2 separate regions of the Homo sapiens genome follow, and region 1 is linked to region 2. The links come from fine-mapping of genetic effects on plasma protein levels. A gene starts in region 2. The other region holds a variant in brackets. All regions are shown on one strand. Distances are from middle to middle.

The links. PIP is the posterior inclusion probability: the model's chance that the variant is causal. The UK Biobank Pharma Proteomics Project read protein levels with antibody pairs (Olink). The fine-mapping took linkage between variants from a reference panel, not from the people measured, so its PIPs are less certain.
Region 1: its variant is fine-mapped to the plasma level of the LGALS3BP protein (UK Biobank, PIP above 0.99).

Annotation. Positions count from the first base shown.
Region 1 is chr17:78,964,573-78,968,951 of GRCh38, forward strand. No RefSeq gene overlaps it. Among named protein-coding and RNA genes, the nearest start is that of LGALS3BP, 13 kb to the right of the region's middle. The variant C/T (reference allele first, on the strand shown) is at 2,107.
Region 2 is chr17:78,978,067-78,982,445 of GRCh38, forward strand. It overlaps LGALS3BP (galectin 3 binding protein), which reads right to left and starts at 1,857. Exons shown (of 6, transcript NM_005567.4): 1 at 1,758-1,857. RefSeq lists an enhancer at 1,891-2,883.

The sequences.
Region 1 (4,379 bases), 13 kb before region 2:
TAGACTGGGTTGATAACCTGTGGTATAGTCACGTAACGGGGTTCACTTCAGCTACAAAGAACAACGTGCGTGAATCTCATAGGCATTGTATGGAAGCCAAAAAGCCTGACACGACACTAGGGAGTGGGTACTCAGGTACGATTCCATTTACATGAAGTTCAAGAGCAGGAACAACTACTCTGTGTCGACAGAAATCAGATTTAGTGGTTCCATGGTGGAGGTTCTGACCTAGAGAGCCTTCTGGGGTGAGGGAAAGGTTCGGTATCTCTATCCGAGGGGTGGTGCCAGCAGTGTTTACATGTAACACAACAATTAACCAAGCTCTACGCTTCCCACATGTGTGTGTGTAATATACCAATAAAATGGTTTTTAAAAATCTCACTGGCAGGCAGGGTGCTGTGGCTCACGCCTGTAATCCCAGCACTTTGGGAGGCCCATACGGGAGGATTGCTTGAGCTGAGGCATTTGAGATCAGCCTGGGCAAAGTAGCAAGACCCCATCTCTAGAAAAACTCAAAAATTAGCTGGGCATGGTGGCACATACCTGTGGTCCCAGCTACTCAGGAGGCTGAGGTGGGAGGATCGCTTGAGCCCAGGAGGTCAAGGCGGCAGTGAACTATGATCACGCCATTGCACTCCAGCCTGGGTGACAGAGTGAGACACTGTCTCAAAAAAATAAAAATAAAGAGGAGCTCAGTCTCGGGATAGACAACTGAGAAAAGTTTTGTCCTTTTCTGCTACCTTCTTCTTGCTGCCTGAAAGGCAGAAGTGATGGCTGGAATCTCAGCAGCCATTGTAGATCATGAGGGTAGCCTTGAGGGTGGCAGGCATACAATAATGGTGTACAAATGGAAGAAGTCTACCTCCAGAAAGGGTGCCTTCTCCCTTTTATGTGTCAGAAAATAACAAAAAATGTCATATAGAGTCCCTGCTATGTTGGGCTTTCATGATAGGAAGCTGAAGCTAAAAATATCTAGTACAGGTGCATGCATGAGAGATTCTGGCTTTGTGCGCTAGCTTGAGCAGCTGGGAGCAGTGCTAATTATCTTCTCAATTGCTTGACTGAAAACTGGAGTCACGGATGGCCCGTGAATTCCTCAGTGTGTTGTAGAGAAAAGAATCCAAGGCATCGAGGAGCCAGGTGCCCTGGAGTGTGTGCCGTGTGCAGTCAATTGCTGGCCTTGACTCTGGACAGACCCAGGAAGCTCTCCTCCCCCAAAAGCCCGCCCAGGGAAATGTGCAGGGAAGGAGGAACCAGTCTCCTAGAAAATTCCCTGCGGCTGCTCTGTGTAGGTCAGAGAGGCCCTCTGGAGATGCTGCAATTGAAATGCTTCGTGATGGCCATAAGGTGGAGGTGCACAGGACCAAAACAGGCAGGGAGCTTGCAAAACCCTCACATGATCTGTAGTGTTAGAAAAGCTCAAGATCCGGGATGGGCGCGGTGGCTCATGCCTGTAATCCCAAACACTCTGGGAGGCTGAGGCAGGTGGATCACCTGAGGTCAGGAGTTCAAAACCAGCCTGGTCAACATGGTGAAACACCGTCTCTACTAAAAATACAAAAAATTAGCCGGGCGTGGTGGTGCGTGCTGGTAGTCCCAGCTACTCGGGAAGCTGAGGCAGGAGAGTCGCTTGAATCCAGGAGGTGGAGCTTGCAGTGAGCTGAGATTGTGCCACTGCACTCCAGCCTGGGGGACAGAGTGAGACTCCACCTCAAAAAAAAGAAAGAAAGAAAGAAAGAAAAGCTCCAGATCTGGTGAACAGAGGCACCTTGTGCCATCACGACAGAGTCGTAGCCTCTCACCCATTTCCTGGATCACCCAGAGCCCCTTGGAAGGAAGGGTGGTCAAATCTCTTACAGAAAGGACCCTGTAATAAAATGACAAGGACTTACAGTACCAAGAATCCGCTTCCTGGCCTTCCCCAAAGAGGCTCTTGGCCGTGAACCCGGCGACCGAGCTCCAGGGCAGGGGTTCGGCAGCTGTCCCGAGGACTTGGTGAGTAGCTTCTCGTGAGTTACACCAGATGAAGACGGCGCTGCCACTGTTTCAGATGTGGCTGATTGGAGTAAATGAGCACACCCCGCACGTGGATGCAGCAGTGGCTGA[C/T]GGCAGCTCCCTCCCCCTCTCCCTATCTCGGTCTGTCTCTCCTGCGTCCACACACACACATGCGTGCACACACATGCACACACACGTGTCCTGCCTCAGGAGTACACCGGCTGTCTCGTTCTGCTTCCTGCCAACTCATGATGCTACAGTCATCACACTGGACCAAAGTGAACCCCAGTGGGTGCCCTATGTGTGTACCCCTTGGTGCCTTAGAAACGGGCCCAACCTTGGCTAGATCTCTGTGGACTTTTGAGGGGACACATGCCTTACTTGGGGAGTGGCTCCTGCCTCTTTACTAGAGACCCAAGTCTGGTGTCAGAGCACGAGGCCACTGTCTGCTGGTGCAGCTGCCTTGCCTGTGACCTTAAGATCCGTTAGGCCAGGACGTGGGGCTTGAGATGCAGGAAGCTATGCTGATGGGCGTGAGGGGCCCGCGGCAGGCCCGCTGGGAGGACCACCCAGGAGCATCCAGCGGTTTGGAGCTGAGCAGGGCCCTCTTTGGCAGGGAGATTCACTCCTTCCAGCACAACCAGCTTTGGCCCAAACATTCGAGCATGGGTCATGAGCTGCCCTCCATGAGCTGGAAGGACACAGGTGGACGTGGCCCTCAGGAGCGCGGGCAGTCTCTGGAGACATGGGTGATTTTCATCTGTGCCAAGGCTGCCCCACCCTCCACCCAGGGCACCTGGGGCTTCCCCCAGGGCCTTATGGTGCATTCCCTAATACCGGTGACGGAGGTGACGGAGGTGACGGAGGTGGGAGAAACGCAAGCCTGTTTCAGATTGCACTGCGGGCTAATTCCAGGTGGGAGTGGCCTGTTGCCCAGCAGAAAGGGGACCTCGCTTTGGGCAGAACCCGGAGTGGCCAATCTCAGTTTCCGTGTGGATGGAGGGAAGCCGGCCTTGGCCACGTGACCTGTGGAAGCAGCTCAGGGTTTGATCAGAGATGCCAGGGCTGGAGGGAGGAGGATGGAAGAATGAGTAGCCGTGAGCTTTGGGAAGAGAGCAGGGACCGGCGTCTTGGGATGGCCACAGAGATGAGGATGCTTCTGTCCCCTGACTGTTCCCTGAAAGGCCCCACTGCAGTCCTATGCTGGGGTGCCTACCCCGGGGTGTGGGGACAGGTGTCACAGAGTGTCACTCTGCACCTCTACAGCCTCCAGGGCCTCCTCTGCTGAGAGGTGGCCTGTGGGGAGGGAGGCTTTGCACGGGCTCACCACTGCCATGTCACCAAGGCTGATGGGAGCGGACCTGGCGCTCCTGGGCCTTCGCTCGGCGCCTCGATGCCCATGGGGAGCTCCGGCTTCCTGAAGGCCGTGGCTTGCAGCCGACCCCTTCCATCGGAGGAGGCAGCCGCTTGCTCCCCAGGAATCGACACTTACTCTAGATCTGAATGCCCCCATCCTACACGGCCCTCAGTGCCACCAGCCCTTCACTGACTCAACACCTTTCCCACCCTGTTGGCCACCCACAGACATGCAGGTGACTCAGGAGCTGCAGTCAGGCCGTGGGCTCATGGTCACATGTGTCACCTATCACACATTCAAGGGCTCACGAAACAGGAAGGCTGGGATGAAACCTCAGGCTCAGGAGGCCAGTGAAGGGAAAAATGCAAGAGCCTGGCTCTGCGGACGTGCTGGGCGGCAGATGAGACAGCCCCGGAAGTCCCTGCCTCCAGGTCCCCCAAATCATCCTTTCCTCCCTCCCTGTAGACAAGAAAATGCTGCCCTCCACCTGTGGACGCACCAGCTCAAGGAGCCCATCTGCATTTCTCCTTGTTCAGAATGCACAGCAGTGAGCCATGGGGCCCTGAGCAGGGCGCCCATCACCTAGTGCAAAGGTTCTGCTTCTAGTCCTGAAACCTGGGTTCTGTTTTTTTGTTTGTTTTTTGTTTTGTTTTGTTTTTTTTGAGACAGAGTCTTGCTCTGTCACCAGGCTGGAGTGCAGTGGCATGATTTCGGTTCACTGCAACCTCTACCTCCCGGGTTCAAGCAATTCTCCTGCCTCAGCCTCTTGAGTAGCTGGGATTACAGGTGCGTGTCATCACGCCAGCTAATTTTTGTATCGGGGTGGGGGGGTTTTCACCATGTTGGCCAGGATGGTCTCGATCTCTTGACCTCGTGATCCGTCCTCCTTGGCCTCCCAAAGTGCTGGGATTACAGGTGTGAGCCACCACACCAAGCCGACACAGGGGTTTTGCACCCAAGAGAGGAACGTTTCCACGATGAGACATCTCCACGTTCCTTCAAATTGGCAGTGAAGATGGGGATTCGC
Region 2 (4,379 bases):
ATCCTGTGATACCTGACACTGTCCCCTCAGTTCAGCAAGCCTGGGGCAGGCCTCTGGGTGGCACTGCTGTGGGCACCGGCTGGGAGTCTGGGCCTGGTGACCTTGAGGCTGCTTGGAGGGGGCCTGGTGGACGGCTGCAATGGCATCCCCAGAGCTTGTCGGAAATGCAGTCATGGCTGGCCTTGCCCTAGCCCCTCTGCATGGGAGTCTGCATGAACAAGCGCCCTGGGAGCTGGGTGCACTGGCTGGTGAGCAGCTTTGCTCTGGGACTCGTGCTCGCTGGCACTGTGCAGCCACCCCTTGTCGGGGCTCCCCGGGCACCACTGGAGGCCTTACCGTGACCCTGAGAACCACCTTAGTTACACCTCACCTTACAAGTGAATGAGCTGACACCCAGAGAGGCAAATGGGCTCCACATCCACAGTCAGTGAGCCACAGGCAGGGGGTCTGCTCGGGGGAGCCCACCTCTCCTCCCTGTGTCAATGTCAGTAGATGGCTAAAGGGGCCAGGGTGTGACCGCCTGTCCTGTGTGCTGGGGACTGTGCTGGTTTTAGCACTGAAGTTTCCCTGTGTCCTGGGAAACCCCTCAGTCCCAGGCACGCCGGTATGGGTGGACGCCCTCTCCACTTCTGCCCCCAGCCACTTCACTCTGCTGCAGCCACTAGGTTTGTCCGTCCTGGGAGAGTAACTCAGGGCCTTGGAAAAATGGCCAACTGGCCAGGCGCGATGGCTCACGCCTGTAATCCCAGAACTTTGGGAGGCTGGGGCAGGTGGATCACTTGAGGTCAGGAGTTCAAGACCAGCCTGGCCAACATGGTGAAACCCCGGCTCTACTAAAAATACAAAATAATAATAATAATAAGCTGGGCATGGTGGTGTGCACCTGTAGTCCCAGCTACTCAGGAGGCTGAGGCAACAGAATTGCTTGAATCCGGCAGGCAGAGATTGTAGTGAGCCGCTGCACTCCAGCCTGGGTGACAGAGCAAGACTCTGTCTCAAAAAAAAAAGGGGGGGGGGCAACGAAGCACCTGGCAGGTGGCGTCGCTGCCCTTTGTGTGGCAGCGGCTATTTTTGCCTGATTCCTTCATACAGTTGAGACCCGGCTGCCTGTGTTGGCCCCTTCGTGCAAATCAGAAAAAAAGGTGCTCTTCCTTGGAGTGGGTGCAGGCCTAGGCCAAATGCACAGGTCTGAGAGAGGGCCAAGCTGAATTCTAACCCACTTGCCCTTTGGCTGGTATCCTTGTGCAGTGAGTAATCTGCCCAACTGTACACAGAGGCCCTGTGGGCCTGGGAGCAGCAATGATTGTTGCTGGACTCAGGAGCCCTGGATCCCCAGCTCCAGGCCTATGTGCAAACAGGGAGGCATGACCCCCACTTGCCTGTGTAGAGAGAGGGGTGCCCTGGCCGGGCGCGGTGGCTCACACCTGTAATCCCTACACTTTGGGAGGCCGAGGCGGGTGGATCACCAGAGGTCAGGAGTTTGAGACCAGCCTGGCCAAGATGGCGAAACCCTGTCTCTACTAAAAATACAAAAATTAGCTGGGCGTGGTGGCACGCGCCTGTAATCCCAGCTACTTGGGAGGCCGAGGCAGGAGAATCGTTTGAACCCAGGAGGCAGAGGCTGCAGTGAGCGGACATTGCATCACTGTACTCCAGCCTGGGTGACAGAGTGAGACCCTGTCTCAAAAAAAATAAAAATAAAAAAGAGAGAGAGACTGAGAGGGGTGCCCACCTGAGAGCTAGAGGCAGGAGCTTACCTGGCTGCGGTAGCTGCAACGGCCGTGTGGAGCCTCCTCGCTTCCAGCCACAGGATCCCTCTGCAGACTGGTCCTTTGACCCAGAAGCCTCTCCCAGTATGGAGCGTGGTCAGGCTGATCCCAGGAAATGCTTCAGAAAAGAGTCTACTTTCGATTTCCAGAAACCACCTGACATAGATGTCTTCCGGGATTGGCTGCTGCTGATACTCCCCAGGGCCCCTCTCTTTTGTCTCAGCTCTGCCTGTGGCTATCAGTGCCAGGCTGGCAGAGGCCCAAGGTGGGAGTCTGGCTGGAGCAAGGCCTGCAAGAGGACTAACAGCCACACTCAGTTGGAAAGGCCGCCAGGCTGGTCAGGGGCTGGCGTTTGGTGGACGGGAGGGGAAGAAGCAGAGGCTCTGGGCCCAGACAGTCTGCACCTGGTGGTGTGGCTGTGGACTCTGACAGAGCGCTCCGAGTCTTTTCCTGGGTCTAGCACGTTGCTGGCTGGGTGAACACCACACAGGGGGCTGCTTATGTGCAAATCCACCCTCTCTGTGCTCTTGGCATGCTGACCACACAGAGGGCCTGTGCCCCACAAGGTTGCATGGCACTGTCCCCTGTCCCCAGGGGAGGGAGGCACTGAGAACCAGGTATGCAGCTGGCCAGTGGAGGAGCTGGACCCTGCTCCAACACCTGACCCCAGAGCCTGTGCTCGCCACTGCTGGACCTGTGGCCACTCTCCTACTGTCTCCCCCTCAGCGGGGCGGGGGACAGAGCCTCTCTGGGTGACATAATGGCTCTGTCCAGCTCATACCCATTCCCTTTCCTCCCACTGAAAGCCGGCACCTCAACTGTCCCTTGGGGAGCACCCCCTCCCATTCCCGGCTGTGTGGTTCCCAGAGGGCCCCCAGCTCTTGGCCTTCAACCACCCAAGGCCTGGCTGTCTGAGCCCTGCGGGGGCCCCGGGCCACACTGCTGGTTTCAGGGTGGGGCTGTGAGCCCAGCCAGCCGGTGAGAGCCAGCTTCTGACTGAGAGGATGTGGGCCCAGGCTGCTGGGGCCGGTGGGGCAGAGCAGAGGGAAGCAGGCATCCTCCGGCCTGAGCTCCTGGGTCCAGCTGGCCTAATCCATGGTCAAGGCTGGGCTTCACCGCTCAGTGAGGCAATCAGCAGCCGCTCTTGTTTCTGTCACTTGCACCCCATGGTTCTGGATGAGCCTTGGGATGTGCCCAGGCCTCTGACCAGTGGTTCTCAGCCTGGGCTGGACAGAAGAATCATCAGGGAGTTTTACAAACTCCTAATGCCTAGACCCAGGAAGTCACCATCTCTGGGAGTAGGGGACAGGCAGGGGCATTTAAAAGCCCCCAGGCAGTCCCACTGGGTGGAAGGCCCTGGTTCCCTGGCAGCTTAGAGTCCGAGACAGCCAGCCCAGAGGTCAGACATTCAATGACTATTTCCTTCAAGGTGTGAGGTTTTAGGCAGCTGCACGGTTTGCCTAATCCCCTCCAGAGGAACTGTGAAGATCCAGGGGCAGGTGCAGCTGGAAATAGAACTGGCTGTGGGGAGTTTAAAAAAATCTCATCTGGATTAAGGGCCTGAGTGCACAGAAACCCCAGCATCATCCCTTCTCAGCAGTGCTAATGACTTCTGCCCAAGTGGCCAGGGAAGGACAGGAGTGCAGAGGACGGGAGGGCATCTCTGGGAAGTGCTGGGAAAGGTTTTAAAACTCAGGTGCCGAATCTTTAGCCCCAGAGTCCGGGAAAGTCCTAAGCCATCCAGGCAGGTAAAATGGAAAACCCAGAGGCCTCCTCGTGGAATCGGAGCACCAACATCTGCTCCCCTGGGGCTCGCAAGGCCTTTCCGGTGTGCGATGACCATGGGGTGGAGGGAAGCGCTGACAGGGGACAGGCAGGGGAAGGGGCAGCGGCTCGGCTCTGAGAAGACAGCTGGGTGAAAGCCTCAGATTCGTGTGGACAGAACTGCTGTCATCAGGAAGCCGCTCCCAAGACATGGTAGGGAAAGTGCGGGGCATTTCAGAGATGAGAATGGTTAACTGGCCTGTAAGGTCATCTTTTGTGCCTCTACCCCAAACCTCTCCGCAAATTGAGGAACGCTCCCTATAATAGCTAATATGGATTTCGCCAGGCATTACTATAAGCCTTGCCACAAATGAATGCATTTAATACTTCCAGCCATGATGGGAAGCAGCTGCTCTTATATTCCCTGTTACAGATGAGAAAACAGAGGCTCAGTGAGGCGACGTAATCGGCTAAAGTTGTGCAGCTGGTAGGGGAAGAACTGGGGTTTCAAACCCATCCTTTCCTTCTTTTTAAAAATTGGCTTTCTTGGCATATAATTTACGTGCAAAGTTTTGGCAAATGTGTAGCGATGGTATCATGACAACAATCATTACCTAGGGCGTTTCAATCACCCCTAAGAATTCTCTTATGCCCCTCTGCAGCCACCCCTCCCCCCAGCCCCTTCCCAGCAACCACCTCTCAGCTTCTGCCACTGCTGGTTGCCTTTCCTAGAATTCCCTCTATTTTGTCTTCTTTTTTAAGACACAGTCTCCCTCCATTGCCCAGGCTGGAGTGCAGTGGAACAATCTCGGCTCACTGCAATCTCTGCCTCTCAGGTCCAAGTGA